7 linked regions of the Homo sapiens genome follow. The protein of the gene in region 6 purifies or fractionates together with the protein of the main gene of each other region. This does not show direct contact. Each region holds a gene or a part of one and is shown on either strand. Other genes may lie near its edges.

The links.
Region 1: the proteins of OR2A4 (region 6) and ACP7 purify together in Homo sapiens (affinity purification with mass spectrometry; one large-scale study listed by BioGRID and IntAct). This does not show direct contact.
Region 2: the proteins of OR2A4 (region 6) and SULT2B1 purify together in Homo sapiens (affinity purification with mass spectrometry; one large-scale study listed by BioGRID and IntAct). This does not show direct contact.
Region 3: the proteins of OR2A4 (region 6) and ANXA9 purify together in Homo sapiens (affinity purification with mass spectrometry; one large-scale study listed by BioGRID and IntAct). This does not show direct contact.
Region 4: the proteins of OR2A4 (region 6) and EML2 purify together in Homo sapiens (affinity purification with mass spectrometry; one large-scale study listed by BioGRID and IntAct). This does not show direct contact.
Region 5: the proteins of OR2A4 (region 6) and AKR1B10 purify together in Homo sapiens (affinity purification with mass spectrometry; one large-scale study listed by BioGRID and IntAct). This does not show direct contact.
Region 7: the proteins of OR2A4 (region 6) and RAB5B purify together in Homo sapiens (affinity purification with mass spectrometry; one large-scale study listed by BioGRID and IntAct). This does not show direct contact.

The regions. Positions count from the first base shown.
Region 1 is NC_000019.10:39,090,868-39,094,367, reverse strand, and holds part of ACP7 (acid phosphatase type 7 isoform 1 precursor), read right to left. Parts: intron 1-3,500.
Region 2 is NC_000019.10:48,583,172-48,586,671, reverse strand, and holds part of SULT2B1 (sulfotransferase 2B1), read right to left. Parts: intron 1-3,500. UniProt on the Homo sapiens protein: Sulfotransferase that utilizes 3'-phospho-5'-adenylyl sulfate (PAPS) as sulfonate donor to catalyze the sulfate conjugation. Responsible for the sulfation of cholesterol.
Region 3 is NC_000001.11:150,985,292-150,988,791, reverse strand, and holds part of ANXA9 (annexin A9), read right to left. Parts: intron 2,457-3,500; coding exon 2,377-2,456; intron 2,191-2,376; coding exon 2,131-2,190; intron 921-2,130; coding exon 836-920; intron 702-835; coding exon 606-701; intron 510-605; coding exon 451-509; intron 1-450. UniProt on the Homo sapiens protein: Low affinity receptor for acetylcholine known to be targeted by disease-causing pemphigus vulgaris antibodies in keratinocytes.
Region 4 is NC_000019.10:45,612,149-45,615,397, forward strand, and holds part of EML2 (echinoderm microtubule-associated protein-like 2), read right to left. Parts: intron 2,553-3,249; coding exon 2,457-2,552; intron 1,524-2,456; coding exon 1,393-1,523; intron 1-1,392. UniProt on the Homo sapiens protein: Tubulin binding protein that inhibits microtubule nucleation and growth, resulting in shorter microtubules.
Region 5 is NC_000007.14:134,539,740-134,541,912, reverse strand, and holds the end of AKR1B10 (aldo-keto reductase family 1 member B10), read right to left. Parts: intron 867-2,173; coding exon 824-866; 3' UTR 501-823; downstream 1-500. UniProt on the Homo sapiens protein: Catalyzes the NADPH-dependent reduction of a wide variety of carbonyl-containing compounds to their corresponding alcohols. Displays strong enzymatic activity toward all-trans-retinal, 9-cis-retinal, and 13-cis-retinal.
Region 6 is NC_000006.12:131,699,144-131,702,583, forward strand, and holds OR2A4 (olfactory receptor 2A4), read right to left. Parts: upstream 2,259-3,440; coding exon 1,326-2,258; 3' UTR 501-1,325; downstream 1-500. UniProt on the Homo sapiens protein: Odorant receptor.
Region 7 is NC_000012.12:55,972,799-55,976,877, reverse strand, and holds the start of RAB5B (ras-related protein Rab-5B), read right to left. Parts: upstream 2,801-4,079; 5' UTR 2,739-2,800; exon of another isoform or gene 2,587-2,738; coding exon of another isoform or gene 2,539-2,586; intron 1-2,538. UniProt on the Homo sapiens protein: The small GTPases Rab are key regulators of intracellular membrane trafficking, from the formation of transport vesicles to their fusion with membranes.

The sequences.
Region 1 (3,500 bases), on a different chromosome or scaffold from region 6:
CCATGCCCGGCTAATTTTTGTATTTTTAGTAGAGACAGGGTTTCACCGTGTTGGCCAGGCTAGCCTCGAACTCCTGACCTCATGATCCACCCACCTGGGCCTCCCAAAGTGCTGGGATCAGCACTTTGGGTGAGCCACCACGCCCAGCCTACAACATATCTTTACACAGTGGTTTTTATATCCCAGGAGCATATACAGATAGATACGAAAATCCAGATTTTGAAGTGATAGCTTCAAATTCTTAAACGTTAGCACCCAAGTCAAGGTTTTAAAAATACCGTGTGGTGTAGTGTAATGTTAAGAGTTCTTCCTCCAGCCATACAAAAATGCATGTGCTCAGGGTTATTTATGGCAGTACTCTTTGTAATTGCAAAATACGGGAAACAACCTAAATGCCCATATTTAGGAGAGTGACTCAATAACATCCACACAATGGTGTAAAAAAGAATGAGGACAAGTTCCAAGAACTGCTATGAAATGTTTCCAGGACATATTGTTAAACCAAAAAAAGCAAAGTGCATAAGAGTATAGTTAGCTGCCCTTAATGTAAGGGGGTATAGAAAATATGCAGGTGTCTCTGTTCATTTGTACAAAAGAAATAAAGAAAGGGTACACCAGGTACTAAAGAGATGAATTACTTACAGGGGATGAGTGGAAAATGAGGTAGAAGAAAAGAGGAGGCCAGACATGGTGGCTCAGCCTGTAATCCCAGCACTTTGGGAGGCCAAGGTGGGTAGATCACTTTGAGGCCAGGAGTTTGAGACCAGCCTGGCCAACATGGTGAAACCCCATCTCTACTAAAAATGCAAAAATTAGCTGGGCGCGATGGCTCATGCCTGCAATCCCAGCACTTTGGGAGGCTCAGGAAGGTGGGTCACTTGAGGTCAGGAGTTCGAGACCAGCCTGGCCCATATGGCAAAACCCGGTCTCTACTAAAACTATAAAAATTAGCTGGGCAGGGTGGCGCGTGCCTGTAATCCAGCTACTCAGGAGGCTGAGGCAGGAGAATCACTTGAACCCAGGAGGCGGAGGTTGCAGTGAGCTGAGATTGTGCCACTCACTGCACTCCAGCCTGGGTGACAGAGCAAGACCCCGTCTCGAAAAAAAGAAAGAGAAAGAAAGAAAGAGAGAGAGAGAGAAAGAGAGAGAGAGGGAGAGAAAGAAAGAAACAAAGAAAGAAGGAAGGAAGGAAGGAGAGAAAGAAAGAAAGAGAAAGAAAGAAAGGAGTGAGGGAAGAAGGAAAGAAAGAAAGAAAGAAAAAGAAAAAAAGAAAGAAAAGAAAGAAACGGGGGCCAGGCGCGGTGGCTCACGCCTGTAATCCCAGCACTTTGGGAGGCCAAGGCAGGTGGATCACCTGAGGTCAGAAGTTCAAGACCAACCTGGCCAACATAGTGAAACCCCATCTCTACCAAAACTACAAAAATTAGCTGGGTGTAGTGGCACACACCTGTAGTCCCAGCTACTCAGGAGGCTGAGACAGGAGAATCGCTTGAATCTGGGAGGCGAAGGTTGCAGTGAGCCGAGATCACACCACAGCACTCCAGCCTGGGTGACAGAGCGAGACTCCATCTCAAAAAAAAAAAAAAAAAAAAAAAAGAGGAATGGGAAAGAGTAGTAGGGATGAAGAAACAGAGACACTGGTCTGAGTCAGGCTTTTCGTATAATTTTGACTCCTGGAACTATAGTCATGTTTCACATTTCCCTCACACACCCACAAAATAAATAATTAAAACTATCAGGGTGTGGGGGGAACCCAATATGGAATAGAAACACTAATAAGTGGACCTAACCAGATTAAAAAAAAGCATAACATAACCACATGGAAGGGGGTGAGGAAGAATAATAACCGCAAGAAACAGTGTCCTAACTGGGTATTATTACAAGACAAAAGACAAAAAGGACTGTGCATAAAGGCTGTCACCTTGGCATCGTGTGCTTCCCACAGGCACACCTGTAAATGATTCTGCAACTGCTATATATATATATATATATATATACAGAGTTTCGCACTTGTTGCCAAGGCTGGAGTGCAATAGCACAATTTCGGCTCACTGCAACCTCTGCCTCCCGGGTTGAAGCGATTCTTCTGCCTCAGCCTCCAAAGTAGCTGGGATTACAGGCATCTGCCAACACACATGGCTAATTTTTTGTATTTTTAGTAGAGACCGGGTTTTACCATGTTGGCCAAGCTGGTCTTGAACTCCTGACCTCAGGTGATCCACCTGCCTCTGCCTCCCAAAGTGCTGAGATTACAGGTGTGAGCCACCGCATGCTTTATGTATACACTAGGATTAAACAAATAAATATATCGTAGACAGAGTGAAGTTTCTGAGTGTTAGAGAAAGAAGTTACAAATAAGGAAAGATAAGGCTAAAATAAACCCATGGTGCTGGGCTGAAATCAGGGATATCAGTATGATCTCATGGTAATTCAATTTTTTTATTTTTTTATTTTTTTAGTTGTTGTCTTGCTCTGTTACCCAGGCTGGAGGGACAGTGGTGTGATCTTGGTTCACTGCAACCTCCGCCTCCCAGGTTCAAGTGATTCTCCTGCCCCAGCCTCCTGAGTAGCTGGGATTACAGGCACACACCACCACGCCTGGCTAATTTTTTGTAGTTTTGGTAGAGATGGGGTTTCACTATGTTGGCCAGGCTGGTCTTGAACTCCTGACCTCAAGTGATCCACCCACCTCAGCCTCCCAAAGTGCTGAGCCACTGTGGCCAACCAGGTAATTAATTTTTATACAGATTCAAACATAGATGTGTGAATATGCAGCTTCGTGTACATGCATGTATTGCCTCGCTGTGTTTGTTGAGAGGAACTAGAAGCAATGACATCCCAGTGGCAATGAGCACACCTAGTGCCCAGATCTTAGTTTCTAAATACTCCAATAAAAAGGAACTGGAGGGCTGGGCACAGTGGCTCATGCCTGTAATCCCAGCACTTTGGGAGGCTGAGGCAGGCAGATCATGAGGTCAGGAGTTCGAGACCAGCCTGACCGGCATGGTGAAACCCCGTCTCTACTAAAAATACAAAAATCAGCTGGGCTTGGTGGTGCACGCCTGTAGTCCCAGCTACTTGGGAGGCTGAGGCAGGAGAATCGCTTGAACCCAGGAGGCGGAGGTTGCTGTGAGCTGAGATCACGCCACTGTACTCCAGCCTGGGTGACAAGAGCAAAATTCCATCTCAAAAAAAAAAAAAAAGAAAGAAAAGAAACTGGAACTTATTGTGGGAAATAGGTGCTTCCCAGGATGGAACAGGAAATACACAAGAGGAGCCTGGAATCATTTGTGATGTCATCAAGTGAGGAAGTGCTCACAAATGATGGAGGCTTGTTGTAAGAACACAGAACGCAATCTGAAGGAATTCTGAGAGACCAAATCTGGGACAATCATAACATCAGATTTTTCACCCATGGAATAAAATGGATATCCATGAGTCCATGATGTAAATAAATCATTGAATAAAGTAATAAAGGGAGCAGGGAGGGACAGCTCTTT
Region 2 (3,500 bases), on a different chromosome or scaffold from region 6:
TGCAGGGCAGAGACTGGTGAGCTGTCCACCCAACCCCATTTCATTTTTCTGCTGGGAATATGGCGTGATGACCTTTTCTCTTCTCCCCTGCTGCTATGTGTGGGGCCAAGAGACTGGGTCTGGCCAAGGAAGTATAGGTGGCGGCGATGTGATGTGCGGCTATTTCCAGGCCTGGCCCATAAACGCACGCCACGTGACTCTCCACTCCCTCTCTGCTTCTGGATACAGAGACTCCAGGGGAGAATCTGGGACTCCCGGGGATGGCAGAGCCATAAGATGGAAGGAACCAAATGTCTGGGAATGCATGGATATCCCCCCACCAACTTCCTTCCACCCTTCCTGCACCAACTACAGTTTATAGGAAAAAGAAACAAACTTGGCTTCAGCCGCTGAAATTCTGAGGCTGATCTATTAGTACAGCCAGAATTGCTTTACTTATTTATTTTTTTGGGGACAGAATCTTGCTCTGTCACCCAGGCTGGAGTGCAGTGGTGTGATCACAGCTCACTGCAGCCTTGAAATCCCGGGCTTAAGAGATCCTCCTGCCTCAGCCTCCCGAGTAGCTGAGACCACAGGTGCACACAACCACACCTGGCTAATTTCTTATTTTTATTTTTAGAAGACATACGGTCCCACTATGTTGCCCAGGCTGGTCTTGAACTCCTGGGCTCAAGCAATCCTCCTGCCTCAGCCTCCCAAGGTGCTGGGAGCAGAGGCATCATGCCCAGCAGGCACTCCTTTAATACATGGAGAAAGCTGGAATTGAACCCAGGTGTCTGGACATAAAAATCTCTGCTCTTTTCACTTTTCACTGCCCACTTTTGAGGGTCACCCCTTTTTTTATTATACTTTAAGTTTTAGGGTACATGTGCACAACGTGCAGGTTAGTTACATATGTATACATGTGCCATGTTGGTGTGCTGCACCCATTAACTCATCATTTAACATTAGGTATATCTCCTAATGCTATCCCTCCCCCCTACCCCCACTTTTTTTCTTTTTGAGACGGAGTTTTGCTCTTGTTGCCCAAGCTGGAGTGCAATGGCGCGATCTTGGCTCACTGCAACCTCCGCCTCCCGGTTTCAAGTGATTCTCCTGCCTCAGCCTCCCTAGTAGCTGGGGTTACAGGCATGCACCACCACGCCTGGCTAATTTTTGGTATTTTTAGTAGAGATGGGATTTCACCATGTTAGCCAGGCTGGTCTCGAACTCTTGACCTCCAGTGATCCACCTGCCTCAGCCTCCCAAAGTGCTGGGATTACAGGAGTAAGCCACTGCGCCCGGCTGAGGTTCACCTCTTTATTTCTGTGGGGAGCCACAGAATGTTACCTAGTGGAAAGGGACCTCATCAAGGACCCAATTCACAGTTTTGAATTTCAGGAGACCACAGGCTGTTCAGAAGAGAAACAATTACGTTCAAAATTACTTTCTGTTAGTATTCATTGCATTTAATTCTTTTTGAGACAGGATTCCGCTCTGTGACCTGGGCTGGTGTGCACTGTTGCAGTCACAGCTTACTTCAGCTTCAGCCTCCAACTCCCAGGCTCAAGTGATCCTCCCACCTCAGCCTCTGGAGTAGCTAGACCACATGTACCCAGCTTTTTTTTTTTTTTTTTTTTTTTTGAGAAGGAGTCTCACTCTGTTGCCCAGGCTGGAGTGCAGTGGCTCTATCTCGGCTCACTGAAACCTCTGCCTCCTGGATTCAAGCAATTCTCCTGCCTCAGCCTCCCAAGTAGCTGGGACTAGAAGTGTGCCACCACGCCTGGCTAGTTTTTGTATTTTTAGTAGAGATGGGGTTTTGCCATGTTGGCCAGGTTGGTCTCAAACTCCTGACCTCAGGTGATCCACCTGCCTTGGCCTCCCAAAGTGCTGGGATTATAGGCATGAGCCACCATGCCCAGCCTGCGCCCACCTAATTTTTAAAATTTTTGTAGAGATGGGGTCTCACTGTGTTGCCCAGGCTGGTCTGGAGCTCCTGGCCTCTAGCGATCCTCCTGCCTTGGCCTCCCAAAGTGCTGGGATTACAGGCGTAAGCCACCACATCCAATCCATTCACTGGATTTCATTCTAACAACCACCTTGTACCAGTTATCAGTTTACAGGCTGGTGGCTCCAACTTCATGCCTCTCTGCCGTTTTTGTGATATTGGAGCTGGACCCTGTAAACATTTCTCCTCTGCCAGCTAGCTCAGTGTTAAACCTTGTCAGCAGAGGGCGCTGGAGGAACACTGAATGAGGATGGGGCTCTTCCTGATTCTCACGAGCTCCTCTTAGCGGGATCTTGTGATGGACAGGGGCCAGCCCTGCACTAGACACGCAGTGACGTTTACCCCTCCCCCTAGCAAATTTCAGTGGCCTGTTGCACTTCAGTGAACTTCTCAGTCACCCAGTGGGTCATGACCATACCTCTGCAGCGAAACTCTAATCTTGTGTGGGGAGCCGGTTGGGCAGGGAAGTCCTTCTTCCCAATTTCTTTCTTTCTTGGGAGTTTGGCTTCAGCCCTAGAGGAAGTGGCTGCACCCTATTTTAGCTATTCCTGTGTGTGGTGTTTTTTGTTTGTTTGAGACGGAGTCTTGCTGTGTTTCCAGGCTGGAGTGCAGTGGCGCGATCTCAGCTCACTGCAACCTCCACCTCCCGGGTTCAAGTGATTCTCCTGCCTCAGCTTCCCGAATAGCTGTGACTACAGGCGCACGCCAGCATGCCCAGCTAATTTTTGTATTTTTAGTAGAGACAGGGTTTCACCATGTTGGTCAGGATGATCTCAATCTCTTCACCTCGTGATCTGCCTGCCTCAGCCTCCCAAAGTGCTGGGATTACAGGCGTAAGCCACTGTGCCTGGCCTTTTGTTTGTTTGTTTGAGACAGTCTGGCTCTGTCGCCCAGGCTGGAGTGCAGTGGCGCAATCTCCACTCACTGCAACCTCCGCCTCCTGGGTTCCAGCCATTCTCATGCCTCAGCTTCCCAAGCAGCTGGGACTACAGGCGCGCACCACCAGGCCCGGCTAATTTTTGTATTTTTAGTAGAGACGGGGTTTGGCCATTTTGGCCAGGCTGGTCTTGAACTCCTGACCTCAGGTGATCCGCCCGCCTCGGCCTCCCAGAGTGCTGGGATTACAGGCATGAGCCACTGCACCCGGACGAATTTCCTTCCTTTTTACAGCTGAATAATATTCCATTGTATGAATATAGCATAATTTGTTTATCCATTCATTCATGAACGGCAGATATTTGGATAGTTTCAGCTTTTGGTCATTGCAAATAATGTGGCTATGAACATTGGTGTACAAATATCTGTCAGAGTGCCCCCACCTAGTATTTAGTTCTTTTGGGCATATTCCTGGAAGTGGAACTGCTGAGTTAATATGGTAATTCTATCTTTAATTTTTTGAGGAACTGCCAAACTGTTTTCCATAGCAGCTGTACCATTCTACATGCTCACCAACAGTGCACAAGGGCCCCATTTTCTCAACATCCTTGCCACACTTGGTATTTTCTTCTGTTTT
Region 3 (3,500 bases), on a different chromosome or scaffold from region 6:
AGTTTTTTCATCTATAAGATACGGATGGATATGGTTGTGAGGATTAATTGAAATATGTGTGCCCTGCTCAGGATAGGCTGTGGCACACAATCAGCACCTGCAAAATGCCAGCCCTTGTCATTATTCTTGCTAGTGTTATCACCATCACTCTGGCAACAACTAAGCCTGCACAAGGCACTGTCTTACAGAGCAGATTCATATCTCTATTTGGCCACCTAGACATTAACAAGGCCAAAATGTTAGTTTCAGGGCCCCTGGGAGCCAACTAAGTTAGTTCTCACCACAGCTCATTCCTCCACCCCTGTGTAAGCCCTGGTGTGTAAGCCCTGGGAAGGAGAGCGGCTTGAGGTTTAGACGGTGTATATAGGATGGTTACATAAGCAGCAAGCTGAGACTTCCTCTCTCCTCCCCAGTTTCTGTTCTGGGGAGGGAAAGGAGTGCCCCTCTCACCTGGAGGGCTTGATGAAGTTTGTCAGCAAAGTACAGCGGTGTGTTCTTGATCACCGAAGCTGGAAACAAAGATGGAAGGATGGAGGTTCACAACTAGGACCACAATCTCCCATCCCAAGAGAGACTTACTTCACAAATCCTGAGCAGGCCCCTACCTAGGCCGAGCAGAGCCACCTGAGCATCTCCATGGAAACGGTTCTGGACAGCCTCCTCCAGCTCTTGCCCAGTGCTCCGCTGGTACTGATCAAACACTTGTGTGTGTAGGAGGCAGTTAGAAAGATGGATGGGGGATTAATTATCTCTGGAAAGGATGGGCCCTCCCCACCTTCCTCAGCCCAAACTGATCATTAGAGCAAGCTAGGGGGACAAGAAGGCTTGTGTGTACCTCGGATGAGGTGTTCAGGATTTCGCTGGGTGAAGACTGGGACCCATGTTTCCTCTCTGCTAGGTCCTTCTGCCCGCTGCAGTGCCTAGGAGGGAGGAATGAGTCAGGGAGGAGTCAATCAGGATCATTGGTTGGGGCCTAGGGAGCCATGGGTATGACGTTCCAGAATCTATCATCATCATGATGGAAATGGGATTGAGGGTGGAAAAGGATTTTTTTTTTTTTTTTTGAGAAGGACTCTCATTCTGTCACCCAGGCTGGAGTGCAATGGTGTGATCCCAGCTCACCACAACCTCTGCCTCCCAGGTTCAAGTGATTCTCCAGGCTCAGCCTCCTGAGTAGCTGGGATTACAGGCACTCACCATCATGCCTGGCTAATTTTTGTATTTTTAGTAGAGACGGGGTTTCACCATGTTGGCTAGGCTGGTTTCGAACTCCTGACCTCAAGTGATCCACCTGTCTCGGCCTCCCAAATTGTTGGGATTATAGGTGTGAGCCACCACGACCAGCCAGAAAGTTTATTTTAACCCGTAAACTAGGTTTGTGTGTGTGCGTGTGTGTGTGTGTGTGTGTGTGAGAGAGAGAGAGAGAGAGAGCGAGAGAGATGGGGTCTCTCTCTGTCACCCAGGCTGGAGTGCAGTGGCATGACCAGGGCTTACCTCAGCCTCAACTTCCCAGGCTCAAGCGATCCTCCCACCTCAGCCTCCTAGCTAGCTGGAACTACAGGTGCAGCTAATTTTTAAAAATATTTTGTGGAGATAGAGTCTCACTATGTTGCCTAGGCTGGTCTTGGACTCCTGGGCTCAAGTGATCCTCTTGTTTCAGCCTCCCAAAGTGCTGGGATTACAGGTATAAGCCACCATGCCTGGCCTACTAGTTGTTTTTATTTATGTTTTTTTATCTTATGTTTTTTATTTTTTAAGAAAGAAATAGGGCTAAGAGAGGGCTCTGCCCTTACAGCCTCACAGCTCTATTCACTGATTTGGAAAAATCCTGGTACCCGAGGATTAAATAATCCCCAAAAGGTCTGAGGAGGCTTTCTGCCCCCAAACGCTCATGAGAGGAGAATATGTCAGTTGATGAGCTCAGGAGTCAGAGGCTAGATGAGTGAAAAGGCTTCAGCTATGACGCTACCTGACACCTCCTGCCCCTACCACATAACTGAGAACTCCCTCTCCAAGGCAGGGATGGGTTTGCGGGAAAAATGGGCACGTAGGTCACCGGCTCTAAGATATGGTGGAGGAAGGCATCTTATGTGCATGGCGGCTGTGCACACTCCTAAACCCCCTGCTCACCTGGACATCTTGTTCTGCCAGATTATAGTCAATGATTCCAGAGTAGCTGTCACGGCCCCCCTAGGAGGAGAAACTGTTCTTAGAGGGCTCTTTGAAGGGCACCTTTTTATCTTCAGACCAACAAGCGAAGGCTGGTCTCCCCTAAAGCCCTCTCTTGTCCATTACAGGACAGCAATGCTCCCTGCTCCAGCGTGTCTCCTTGCCTGGTGAACGTGACTCCCTTCCTTGCAGGTCAGTCCTCCTCACCTTGGCCAGGGCCAACAGCAGGTCCTGCAAGATGCCACTGGTCTCAGATGTGATGTCATCCACAGCCTCCACCTGGAAATCTGGGGTGGGGTGAGGAGCTCTCTGAATCCTCCTGAGTTTTCCTAGTGTAGATATCCCCAGGACCTGCCAAATGCCTGACCCGCTATACCCTGCCAGCCCTGCTAGCCCCTGCTTGGAGTAGCTTGATGGCTGCTAATTCCCAGGATGTAAGGCACAAGTACCATCACGGCCACTCTAAAAACATCTCTAAGTTGTGAGGTGTGCAGTGGCTTCATCACCAAGCACCAACCTGCTGGGCAGGAGGCAACCATTATTAGAGTTGGGGCCAGGCAGTGAAGAAGAGCTAGGGAAACCCGTATTATAACACAAGATGGTTAGGACCTGGCACCCTCATTGGAGGTAAGGAAAAATGATATGAGAGGTGGGATATGAGGAAGGAAAAGAGCAGGAAAGGGAGAAAAAGAAAGAGAAAAGGGAAACAGATGCAAGAAGGAAGGAAGGTAGGAGAGGGATTAAGAACATAGGCCACGGCCAGGGCGGTGGCTCATGCTTGTAATCCCAGCACTTTCAGAGGCTGAGGCAGGAGATGGCTTGAGCCCAGAAGTTCGAGACCAGCCTGGACAACACAGCGAAACCCCATCTCTACAAAAAATACAAAATTTAGCTGGGCATGGTGGTGGCACACCTGTAGTCCCAGCTACTTAGGAGGCTGAGGTGGGAGGACTGATTGAGCCCAGAAGGGTCAAGGCTGCAGTGAGCCATGATGACATCACTGCACAGCCTAGGCTACAGGGCAAGACCTTGTCTCAAAAGAAGAACATAGGCCAAGATTAGACATCAAAGGAAAATTGGGGAAAGCAAGAAAAAGAGGTAGGGGTGGGGGGAAGGGGTGGTAAGATGAGGATGGGAAAAAGCCACAAATTAGTGGGTGAGACACTTGTAGCCAAGCAAGGCCAGCCATCAGGGACATGAAAGGTGACACCCATGACTCAGAGGGCAGATTCCCACCTTTTCCTCAGGCTGCAGCATGGCTGGGTTCAGCTTGGAATGTGGTGTGATGGCAGGGATGGCAAGGGGCTGGGAAGGTGACATGAGTACCTTTG
Region 4 (3,249 bases), on a different chromosome or scaffold from region 6:
CTACTTCTTGGGTTCAAGCAATTCTCCTGCCTCAGCCTCCTGTGTAGCTGGGATTACAGGCGCCTGCCACTACGCCTTGCTAACTTTTGTATTTTTAGTAGAGTCAGGGTTTCACCATGTTGGTCAGGCTGGTCTCAAACTCCTGACCTCAGGTGATCCATCACCTTGGTCTCCCAAAATGCTGGGATTACAGGCTTGAGCCACCGCACCCGGCCACATATGCAGTTTCTTAAAACTACAGACCAGGACAGGTACTGTGGCTCATGCCTTGTAATCCCAGCACTTTGGGAAACTAAGGTGGAGAGGATTGCTCAAGCCCAGGAGATCAAGACCAGCCTGGGCAACAGAGAACCTATCTCTATGAAAAATACAAAAATTGGCCAGGTGTGGTGGTGCACGCCTGTAGTCCCAGCTACTCAGAAGGCTGAGGTGGGCGGACCGCTTGAGTCCAGGAGGTCAAGGCTGCAGTGAGCCGAGATTGTGCCATGCCACTGCACTCCAGCGTGGGCAACAGAGTGAGACCCTGTCTCAAAAATAAAAAATAAAAAAAGAAGAGAAAGGAGAAAGAAGAAACAAATGAAATAAATATACCAAATCTGGTAATAGTTGAACATGGGTAACAGGTACAGGAGGAGTCACTGTACTAGTCTTTCTGCTTTTATGCATGAAAATTTCCTAGGAAAATGCTGAAACAATCCCTCTTCTGTTAGAACCAGAGAATGGTAAAATTAACGTCCAGCTTTTTTTTTTGTTTTTGTCTTTGTTTTGAGACAAAGTCTTGCTCTGTCGCCCAGGCTAGAGTACAGTGGTGCAATCATGGCTCACTGCAGCCTCAACCTCCTGGGCTCAAGCAATCCTCCCACCTCAGACTTCCTTGTAGCTGGAACTACAGGCATGCACAACCATGCCCAGCTAATTTTGTGTGTATTTTGTAGAGATGGGGTCTCACTTTGTTGCCCAGGCTGGTCTTGAACTCCTGGCCTCAAGCAATCCTCCTGCCTCAGCTTTGCAAAGTGTTGCGATTACAGGTGTGAGCCACTGCAACTGGCCTTGGCCTCCCTTAAAAACTCATAAGATCTGGTTGTATATCCTGTGCCTAGGTACATAGTAGGTGCTCAATAAATATTTACTGAGTTAACAAGGATAAAAGAACCAAAGAGCTCAGAATTGCAGTTGCTCAGAACTTCAGAGAACCAGGTCTTCACCATGACACACTGAAATTCATCCACCTTGGGGTTAAGAAAGGCCCTTGGGATCAAGACTACTGTCCTCCTTGTACAGATGGGGAAACCGAGGCTCAGAGAAGGGGTGGGGTTGGACCAGAGCTGCCTGAATTTTGTCCCCACCCCTGCTTGCTACCCCCGTCCATCCCCATCTCCCCAAGGGACTCACTCGAGGCTGACAGCAGGGGTAGCTAAACAGGTGAACTTTGCCAAAGTCATCAGCTGAAGCCAGCAACTTCCCATCATGAGAGCGGGCCACAGCGTTGATATCAGTGCCGTCCGCCCCCTCAGACCAGATCCCTGTGGGCAAGATGAAGGGAAGTGGTAAGATGTCAGCTGGAGCCAGGGACCGCCAAGAGGAGCAGATTGCCACTCCAGCCACCTTAATTTGTTCCGACCTAGCCTGTATCTATCCGAGGATATGAGTCAGAATTACCTTAAAATGTGAATCCGAGCCTGCCCCTGCTCTGCTTAAAACCCTTCCATGGCTCCCTGGTGATCTTAGAAGAAAGCCTGTGGTTCTAAGGCTCAGCAGGCCCCATGCACTGCTCCAGCCTCATCCCTCATCAGTGCTCCTGTTAAACTCTGTAATGATTTGGCCACCCTGCCTCCCTGCATTTCTCCAAATGCCAAGTTCTGTGTCACGCGTGGGCTTTTGTATGTACTATTCCCTTTGCCAAGAGACTGCTTTCCTTCTTCACTGCCCTGGAAAGTAACTCCTCATCCTCCAGGTCCTAGCTCAGATGTCTCTTCCTCCAGGAAGCCCTCCCTGATTCCCTCCAAGAGTAGGCCAGATGCCCCACCCTGGGTTTCCCTGTCTCAGACCTGCTCACTCTGGGTCATCACTGTCTGGGGACAAGTCTGCCTCCCCCACTGGACTGAGAGCCACAGGAGAGCAGGGCCGTCAGTCATGGTCACTGCCAAGCCCACGGCAGGCACAGAACTGCTCAGGGAATATGTGTTTGCTTCATTCGTGCCTGAATGAATGGGTGGCTAGGGCACCGGCAGTGTGGATCTCTCCTGGCCAGTTACCACGCCCATTTGGTTTCATTTTATTACAGCTCTAATGAGTCATCTCACCCTACCCTTTCCTCTTACACAAATACAGCCCACATGCAGTAAAGCAGTGAGCTTCCCACACTGGAGGTAAGCAGTAAGACTCTGGAAACCACCAGCGGGGATGTCTCTCAGAACTACTGTCCTCAGTGAGACCTCTCTCATTCCAGAACTCACCAAACACCCCAAACCCTAGGACACAAGTAGCTGTGGCCCATTCCATGTTCCTCACAGCATCCGCACTGGTGATCTGCTTACAGGTAGCCGGGTCCCCTGGGGCAGAAAATGGGAGGAGACATTCAGAGTTGGAAGAACTACCCAGTAAACCCATCCCTTTCTTAGACAATCGGAGCTGAGGTCCAAGACAGAGGAGGCTAAGGTCCCAGGGCTCATTCTACCTGTCAGGACTGGCTGAGAAGGCATCACATGCTGGGGTCTTCACAGCCCGCAGCGTAAGCAGGAGCATCTACTTTTAAACCCGCATCTGGCCGGGCATGGTGGCTCACGTCTGTAATCCCAGGAGGCAGCATGAGCCACAGCATCTGGCTGGATCACCTGAGGTCAGGAGTTCGAGACCAGCCTGGCCAAGATGGTGAAACCCCATCTCTACTAAAAATACAAAAATTAGACCAGGTGTGGTGGCTCATGCCTGTAATCCCAGCATTTTGGGAAGCCAAGGCAGGCGGATCACCTGAGGTCAGGAGTTTAAGACCAACCTGGTCAACATGGCGAAACCCTGTCTCTACTAACAATATTTTAAAAATTAGCTGGGCGTGGTGGTGGACACCTGGAATCCCAGCTACTCAGGAGCCTGAGGCAAGAGAATCGCTTGAACCTGGGAGGCGGAGGCTGCAGTGAGCCGACATCGTGCCATTGCACTCCAGCCTAGGAGACAAGAGGGAAACTCCCATCTCAAAAAAAAAAAAATACAAATACAAATATTAGCCGGGCATGGTGGTGTGCTCCTGTA
Region 5 (2,173 bases), on a different chromosome or scaffold from region 6:
CAGATTAATGGCAATAGTAAGTATCTTTATTGTTTTTCCACCCTACTTCCCAAGGAAATGCCACACCTCTACTTCCCAAGAAAATGCCGCACCTCTCTCAATGAACACTAGCATCTTTGTGGAGTTTGCAGGCTCTGCCATTGACTCTTTGGCACAATGGTGTTGAAGGCAAGCTGTGAGAGCAAGACAGGGAATGAGTGGAGACAGGCAAGAAGGAAAGGTGGCAGGAAAAGGCTCAGGAGAAAGAGGATGACCATCGATCGCTGTGAGCTACCCCAGAGCCTGCCTCCCTTTGAAACTTGGTTCAGTCACTTACTACCTGGGTGGCCTTGAGCAAGTTCCTCCTCCCTCCCCTCTACCTCCATTTCCTCTTCCAGCAAATGTGAATAATAAGATGTTAAGAATACCTACCCCAAAGGGATTATTCTGAGGATTCAATGACTTCACCCACAGGAAAACACTTCAAATTGTGTTGGCACATAGTACAGTCTCAATACATGTTGGTTATGATTATTATTTTTTTTATTGATCTTTACATCCTCAGTGTTGGCAGAGTTTCTGATGCTTAATAAACATTTGTTCTGATCAGATAAGTGGAAAAAATTGTCATTTCCTTATTCAAGCCATGCTTTTCTGTGATATTCTGATCCTAGTTGAACATACAGAAATAAATGTCTAAAACAGCACCTCGATTCTCGTCTATAACAGGACTAAGTTCACTGTGATCTTAAATAAGCTTGGCTAAAATGGGACATGAGTGGAGGTAGTCACACTTCAGCGAAGAAAGAGAATCTCCTGTATAATCTCACCAGGAGATTCAACCTCAATATTCTGCATTGAAGGGATAGTCTTCCAAATGAGAGGATCTGCAGGAAAGAACAAAAAACAAAAACAGAGAAACTGAGTTCCATCAAAACAACAACTCTGGTTGAGAAGGTATTCTTCCCTGGTGGACTCTATCATATTTGTGCTCTCTTAGCCTCCTCCCTGCAAGAACATAAGGAGGGTGCCCACACTTTGACCTTCCCTCAAATCGATATGAGGGCTTTGCTCGGAAGGAGGGCAGACAGTGAGCAGGGCAGCAGAATAAACTCGTAATGACAACCCATAGTAAGCCTGGTGTCAGGCGAGGTGACAGACAAGTCTTGTCCCAATCCACTCTCACAACATCATGAAGTAGGAAACAACAGCAGAATTGACAGCTTGGGGATTGTTCTGAGTATTAAATGAGATAATACCACCGGAAAAGGGCGCAGGACCCTGGCACATTCTAAGCTAAGGTTCAATGGATGTTAGCTGCGATTAGTATTATCATCCTACTTTATAAGTGAAGAAACCAACTTGGAAAAACTAGGAAATTTGCCCAATGTCACACAGCTAATAAACCAGTGTTAAAGTTGGATTTGAGGCCAGGTGGATTTACTGCAGAGCCCACCAACCCATTGCCTCCATTGCTACCCATTGCCAGAAATGATGCTCATAGGAAGGTAAGCAGTTTAGTTTGGGGGGTGAGTCCCACTTTACGTTCACCCTTCCTTTTTGCTCTAAGTAGCTACTACTTTGTTAAGCTCCAATAAAAGTAAGCCATTGTAAGATGAGGAAAGGCTCCTATGATACTTAGGGTGGGCAGGATAGATATGGAATATCATGACATGCAAGCAGCGCTTGAGATACTGAAACCTTTTTTTTTTTTCTGAGACAGAGTCTCGCGCTGTCACCCAGGATGGAGTGCAGTGGCGCAATCTCAGCTCACTGCAAGCTCTACCTCCCGGGTTCACACCATTCTCCTGCCTCAGCCTCCTAATTAGCTGGGACTACAGGTGCCCACCACCACGCCCAGCTAATTTTTGGTAGAGACGGGGTTTCACCATGTTAGCCAGGATGGTCTTGATCTCCTGACCTCTTGATCAGCCCACCTTGGCCTCCCAAAGTGCTGGGATCACAGCCGTGGGCCACCACGCCCAGCCGAAATCATTTTTAAAAGGTGAAAAATCGTTTTTGGCTATAGAAACATTGAAAGAGATTCAAATCCTCATTGAATTACAGATCTGGCAGTAATAAATGCCAGACAACTCTTTTTGATACATTTAATTAGATACATTATTCAGAAAGTATTGCTTGTAAAGAGATGATTTAGAATGCCTGCCCAGCCAGAGTGAAAGCTTTTTTTCAC
Region 6 (3,440 bases):
AGGAGAATTGTTTCAACCCAGGAGGCAGAGGTTGCGGTGAGCCGAGATTGCACCACTGCACTCCAGCCTGGGCTATAGAGCAAGACTGTCTCAAAAAAAAAAAAAAAAAAAAAGGATAAAATAGTTTTAGGACATAGTTTTATATCTAACATGATATGACACTGAGTTATTGTGTAAAAAGTTATTTTAAAATATAAAAGTAAATTCTTTGAACTAAGACAATGAGAAATTAAATATAAATGTTTAAGACCAAACTTAAACCTAGAAAAAACATCATCTCAAAATGACATGTTTCCCATGGCATAAGAAGCTGCTACAACTTTTAAGTGTGTAGGTGGTGGATTTTGAAATCTTTCTAGATTTTTCTTTCTTGAGAAATCTGGGTTTATCTTGAAAACCCTGAATTAGAAAAATTAGATTGATTTCATTCAGCGGCAAACACAGGAAGATGTATACTGAATCATATTTCTTAAAAATCTCAAATTTAGAAGATTGTGAGGTTGAATGAGGTCATCTCCTGAAGCTTCTATAGCAGGAATGCCGATCCATGATGAAGGACAGGATTGCATTTATTTTCTTTAGATGATCTACCATTGAACAGTAGAGACAGGGTCCCTCACGGTCTGTATCCAAACAGAACCCGGATTTTTACAGACTGATCGAGGCATAATGCTCAGAACTACATCTCTTTAGAGGCTCACTTTGCAAGGAAAAAAGAAATCATTCTGCCCTAGAAGGGGGCTGTAGGAAGTATTCACAATGAGTCAATTAATATCAAGATCTCCTGTTCCAGGAAACTGTTACTAAGTATTACAAAGGAAATTTTATGTGCTCACATAAGTTTAGAAAACACTGGCTTAAAGCTGGTATAGAATTATTCTTTCCTAGAGAAATATTTACAGCATTCACTATGCTAATATGAATTGTGATCCCTAGACAGAGGCATCTGATGTGAAGTAAGTCTCAAACTTATTTGACTATAGAACTTATTTTTAAAGTCCTCTGAAGGGACCAGTGTTTTGAGGAAAACATTATGGGAGGTATGGGACTGGATCAAAAGCTAATGAGGATATTGTAAGGGGTATTGTCCTGGTGTGGAGTGGCTGCAGCACAACTTGAAGAGATCAATTTCTAGAATTTCATCCCACATCTGCTGAAATCAGTCATTTAAAGGTAGGGCAGGAGATAGCTCCATTTTAAATAAATGTCTCAGATAATTCTCATGTCCATTGAGGGCAGAGGTCCCACCAGTGCAGAGATGGGTTAAGAACCGCTCAATGATGTAACTTCCTAGGTCACTGTCAGTCACAATGCCATAATCCTTTTCATAAAGCCCTTTCTACTCCCAGCACTCTCTTCAAAGTATTCTTCACTTCTGAGTTCCTAAGACTACAGATAAGGGGATTGAGCATGGGATTAAAGAGGCTGTGAAACAGCAGGAGATATTTCTTCTGCTCCTTGGGGTTCCCATATCTGGGTCCAACATACATGATAATGGCTGTGCCATAAACGAGTCCAATCACACAGAGGTGGGAGAAGCAGGTGCGGAAGGCTTTCCTCTGAACTTCCCTTGATTGGATCTGAAGGATAGCACAGAGGATGCACATATATGAAACTACAATTGTGGACAAGGGTCCCACCAGCCCAGAAATTGCTCCGGCCAAGACCATGTTCTCATTGATGTGGGTATCTGCACAGGCAAGTTTGAGAACAGCCAAGATTTCACAAAAAAAGTGATAAATTTTCTGGGGCCTACAGAAGGGTAAAGGTAGAAGTAACACAAGATGAATCAAGGATAAAAGGACTCCAGTGGTCCAGGAAGTCACCGCGAGGGTGATGCAGACTCTCCAGGTCATGATGGCCAAATATCGGAGGGGGTGGCAGATGGCCACGTACAGATCATAGGACATCACCACCAGGAGGAGACATTCTGTGACAGCAAAAGTGGAAAACAGAAAGGTCTGCATCATGCGGCCCGCAAAGGAGATGGGCTTGGCTGGATGCAGGAGGTTCACCAGCATCCGGGGCACCGTGTTGCAGGCGTAGGCGATGTCGACGACCGCCAGGTGTGAGAGGAAGAAGTACATGGGGGCGTGCAGTCTGGAGTCCAGTGAGATGAGCCCCAGTATGGTCCCGTTCCCCAGCAGGGTGAAGACGTAGAACAGGGAGAAGAGCCCAAAGAGGAGCATCTGAATCCTTGGGCCAACGGGAAATCCCAGTAGGAGGAACTCTCTGATGGATGTTATATTGTCTCCCATATCCCTATGACAGAGGAAATCAAGTTAATGCTCATGGTTTAGGAGAAGTGTTTAAAAACAGATTCATTTTAACTTGTTCGGCACTCTTTGGTGAAGTAGAAAAGTGTTCAGACAGCTGCAGTGAGTTTTTGTGTTTTTAAATGAATGCTTCAAGACAATTTGGTAACGCTAAAATAAATGTTTAAAAAATATATGCAGGCCGGGTGCGGTAGCTCACGCCTGTAATCCCAGCACTTTGGGAGGCCGAGGCGGGCGGATTGCCTGAGCTCAGGAGTTCGAGACCAGCATTGACAACACGGTGAAACCCCATTTCTACTAAAAATACAAAAAATTAGCCCGGCGTGGCGGCGTGTACCTGTAGTCCCAGCTACTCGGGAGGCTGAGGCAGGAGAATTGCTTGATCCCAGGAGGCGGAGCTTGCAGTGAGCCGAGATCGCAACACTGCACTCCAGCCTGGGTGACAGAGCCAGACTCTGTCTCCAGAAAAAAAAAAAAAAGAAAAGAAAAAAAAAACGCGTGCACACGTATACATAGGTTTCTTTTTTATTACGTTAATTTTTTAATAAAGGCTAAAATTTAAAAATAAACATGTCACATATTAATATATCCTTTTGGTCTTTTTTTAAAAAAAATTTGGCTCAGGCCTTTCAGGGATGAATGTCACATGTCAATGTAGTACACAGTTTTTGTTTGATTCAGTGAGCTATCTCATATCCTTCAAATAAATTCTTCTTTTCCTTGGTCGTATTATTCAGAGTTTTTCTCTGTTATGTTTCAGAAACAATGAACACTAACTGATACACATGTCAAAGTCTTAAAACCACATTAAGTTTAATCTTAAAGTGGAAGGTTTAATTAAGGGCGGGCTATACTAAGGTTCGACATACCATCAGCCAAATACACCAGTGGTCATTCACCTCTTAAACTTTCCACTCTTGCACTGATCATCACCTCCACAGCATATATCTCACAAAATCTTTTCTTATCCAAGTGTAAAGACTTATTTTTTAGCCCAGAACATTATTTTTTGTTATTTACTTTCCCACAATGTTTAGATGAGCATTTATGTGAATGACTGAATAGATTTGCACTGTGTCATTATCTAAACACGAAAACAGGATCAGTAACTTTTGTTGGATTTGGGCTTACTATTGATAAACACTCTAGAATACACAGTTTTAA
Region 7 (4,079 bases), on a different chromosome or scaffold from region 6:
CAACAGAGGGCTTTTAAAGCTAGTAAGGACAAATTCAATTAATAAGGTGGTAGTATGAAATGCCCCAGCTGTACTCTGACTCTGAGATTTAGAGGAAAACCGATTTCAAATCCAGATAAGCTTGGAGCTTCTCAGATCCCTACAGAAAGACACACACTGTACTCCAGCCTAAGTGACAAAGCAAGACCCTGTCTCTAAAAATAGAAGAAAAGAAAAGAAAGACAAATACAGGGGCCTCTTAGGAGAACCATCATCATCATGGATAAGAAAGGGATAGTCAAGTAATGTGAACATGCAGAGACCATGAACATCCAGAGACCATGAATTTGAGATAAGGGTCTGAAATTCCTTTCTTTAGCAGAGATGCCAACAATTATCCCAACCAAAATGATCCTTTCTCCCCATAAAGTTTTGTTCCATCTCTTTGGGCACTTCCTAGGACACCCAGCACACAACTTGGGGTGTGTGTGTTTGTGTGTACTCAAGGTGAATAACACACAGTACAGCCCTCTGCTTGTCGGACTTGGTAGAAGACAAAATGAACTGTGAAAGGAACACAATAAATAACAGAGTATCATCCCAGAAGGGAAAACTGTAGAAAGAATAAGACTAGAGTTTGATGAGAACATGAAAACACAATTGCCTTTTGTGACACATCCCCCAAAGCAAAGCAAGATTAGTCTGATTTGCTGTCTCTGATCCTTGACCTTCCTAAATGAAATATGAATAAGGTATGTGTGGGAGGATTTATACTTCTTAAACTGCTGTACACCTTCCATATTTTAAAATATGTACATATTAACTTTTGTAATTAAGAAATGTAGTGATGGCCGGGTGTGGTGGCTCACGCCTGTAATCCCAGCACTTTGGGAGGCCGAGGTGGGCGGATCATGAGGTCAAGAGATTGAGACCATCCTGGCCAACATGGTAAAACCCTGTCTCTACTAAAAATACAAAAATTAGCTGGGCGTGGTGGCGCACGCCTGTAGTCCCAGCTACTTGGGAGGCTGAGGCAGGAGAATCTCTTGAACCTGGGAGGTGGAGGTTGCAGTGAGACTCCGTCTCAAAAAAAAAAAAAAAAAAAAAAGAAATGTAGTGATAAAATATATTGGTAGAGACGCAGAAAAGGAGGAAGTACAGTAAGGGAAAATCCAATAGGCTCCAATCTATGAGGGACTAAGAAGGCTAGCAGACCATTAAAAATATGTGGGGAGGAGGGTACTCCACTCCTCTGCTTTGGCAATCTTTGTCTTTTTTTTTTTTGGAGACAGGGTCTCATTCTGTTGCCCAGGCTGGAGTGCAGTGGGAAGATCATGGCTCACTGCACCCTCGAACTCCCGGGCTCAAGTGATCCTCCTGTCTCAGCCTCCCAAAGTGCTGGGATTACAGGCGTGGGCTACTGCACCTCTGTATCTTTTTCTCTACTCACCATCTTCCCCAGATACTTCATAGTTTGACCCAACTTTCTAACAGCACAGAAATCTGGGCTTTTGAAGTAGACAAAGAACAAGGGGTGATGCCAAGCTTTTGAAATGGAATTTCTCACTCTTCCCCAAATCTCTTCCTCAGTGATATCACCGCATAGTTTCGGACCTGTTAACTCCATTACCTGCCTGGGAAATACCCAAGTCAAGTCTAAGTCCCACAAAAGTTTCACCAACTATGATCAGAAGATCTCCTGATGGCTGAGGATCTCTAAGCCCCTTTCCCATGTAGATAATGAAATAGATATGAAATAGATTCTCAGTTCTAGGAGACATGGTATTTGCTATAGACCACATTATTAAGTGGGAAAGAAGTGGACAAAACATGCCCCCAATCCAACTTCTTAGCTCTTTCATAGGACATGAAACAGTAAGTTAAGAAACAGACTGCAGTATAGACCAGCTATGAGGCCAACAGAAAGTGTAGGGGCTGAGTTTGGAGCAGCCAACAGTCATGGAAAAAAAAAAATTACTTTGATCTTCATCCCTACCCTGGGAGTTTTAAAAAGCTTCAAATTACCACATCTAAACACTAAAGGGAACAAAAGAGTGTGTACTCCCAAGACCCAGAGCCCCCAGCCCACCCTTCAGCATTCCCAGAAGTTCCCATAACTGATACCAGGCCCTGCTTCCATTACTTCAACTACCTTAGTCTTCTAGATTAATACAGCCTTCTTCATTTTCCCCAGTTCTCCCTCACTGAACCCAAATCTCTCTCAGCTCAACACCATAGCACCCTCAGTTCTTTTTACAATAGGCACTTTCCCTGAAAAGAACGCTTCTTACCCAACTAAGAACCCTTCTCAGGCCCTTCCAATGAACCTCTCTGCAGGGACCCAGCCCCAGTCACCCCCGGGGCTCGGGCGACAGGTCTGACCCTCCTCACCTCCCGGCAAATGGGCTTACCTCACCCGCTGCCCTGTTCCTTTCCCCAGCTCCTCCCTCTTCAGCGCTGCTTAATGAGGCCTGCCCCTGCCCTCACTCAAGCTCCAGGCCTCCAGCCCCCGGCCCTCGGCCTGGCCGCCGCCACAGCCCAGCCGCCTTCCCGACTCACCAACTTCGGGGTCCCAGGCCGCCCAGTCCCCTCCTCAGCGACCCCCATTAGGCCTGCCGGGGCCCGGCCCCCTTCTCCCCTCTCCGGTGGGCCACTCTAACCCCTCGCTTAGGACCAGACCCGCCTCCGCTCTCAGGCCAGGCTGCTCTCATCTCCCGGGCGCTTCCGCCCCTGCCCTTTGGGCTCCATCAGCTCGGTACCTGGGGCTCCGTCTCCCCCGTCGGCCCCAAGCCTGTGTCGAACAGACAAACAGCTGCAGCTCAACCAAACCCTCCTGCCCCTCCTTCTCCTCCTCGCCCTGGGGCGGGGCTCCAGCCAATAGCTCGATTACCCGCCTACCTTCGAGGGTGGGCTATATGTGCACTCATCCACCAATCCTCTGGAGAAAGGCGAGTCTCTTTGGGCGCTGTCACCAACAAGTACGAGCAAGGGACGCGACAGGCGGGGCCACAAGCCAATAGCGAGGGAGAAACCTCGAAGATGGACGAGGTAAGGAGCCATTAAAGAGCAAGCTCCTGAAGACAGGGGGCGGTACACTGCCGACAGGCGTATGTATCCACCAATAAAATCTCGACACCCCATGACCCCGCCTTTTGACTCATAAACATCTAATCAGGTGAGTGATGGAGGCGGGTCAAAGTGAAACTTTAACCAGTACTGCGAAAATACGGTACTTGACTGGCAGGCAAGGAGGGGTTGAAGGAAGCCTTAGGAAGGCCGCTACTGACCTTCGCCCCTCCCCCTGGACTTGGCTGGGGCTGGCTCTAGTGCCCTGCCTTCTATGACAAATTCGCGGGCGTAAAGGGAAATACCTCTTCTAGGGATCCGGAGCCTGGGAATTTAAGTAACCCTGACATCAGCGCTTCCTCCTTTTAGTGAGGCTTCAGTGGACAGGCGTATTTGGGGTGGCCGCGGGCGGTCTGAGATGTTTTTTGGTGGAATGAGACAATGGCAACTACAAGAAGTGGTAGCTTGGAGACGCTTTTTCAGAATCGTATGTAAATGTAAATAAAAGAATCTTTGGAAAACTTTTCTGTCTGTGATATGAAACAGAAAGGAAAAACGGCGGGCTTACTGGGAAATGCAGTGTCGAAAGGCAAATTCCCCGGGAGCCCTCTTCCTGCCGCTATGTATGTGCATGGGTGTGTGTATGTATGGGGTGTGTGTGCATATATGGTGTGTATGTGGTGTGTGTGTATTTGGTATATGTATACGTGGTGTGTGTGGTATATGTGTGTATATGATGTGTGTGTGGTGTGTGTATGTGATGTGTGTGTGGTGTGGTGTGTGTGTGGTATGTTGGCTGGGGGAAAGGAGGTTTGCTGGTGTGTGGAGAAAGTGAAGTAGGAAGTATATAGGCTTCAGTTTCCCCAGCCATAAATAGGGATGATAATAACCACTTTGTTCACCGTCAGCACTAGCCAAAATGGGGTGGGGTGGGCAGCCATGCACAGAGAGATTAGGAAAAGGGGTCTGAAATCAATGATCACATACACACATTCATATTCTGTCTCCCACCATTCTTTCAGTAAATAAGAGGA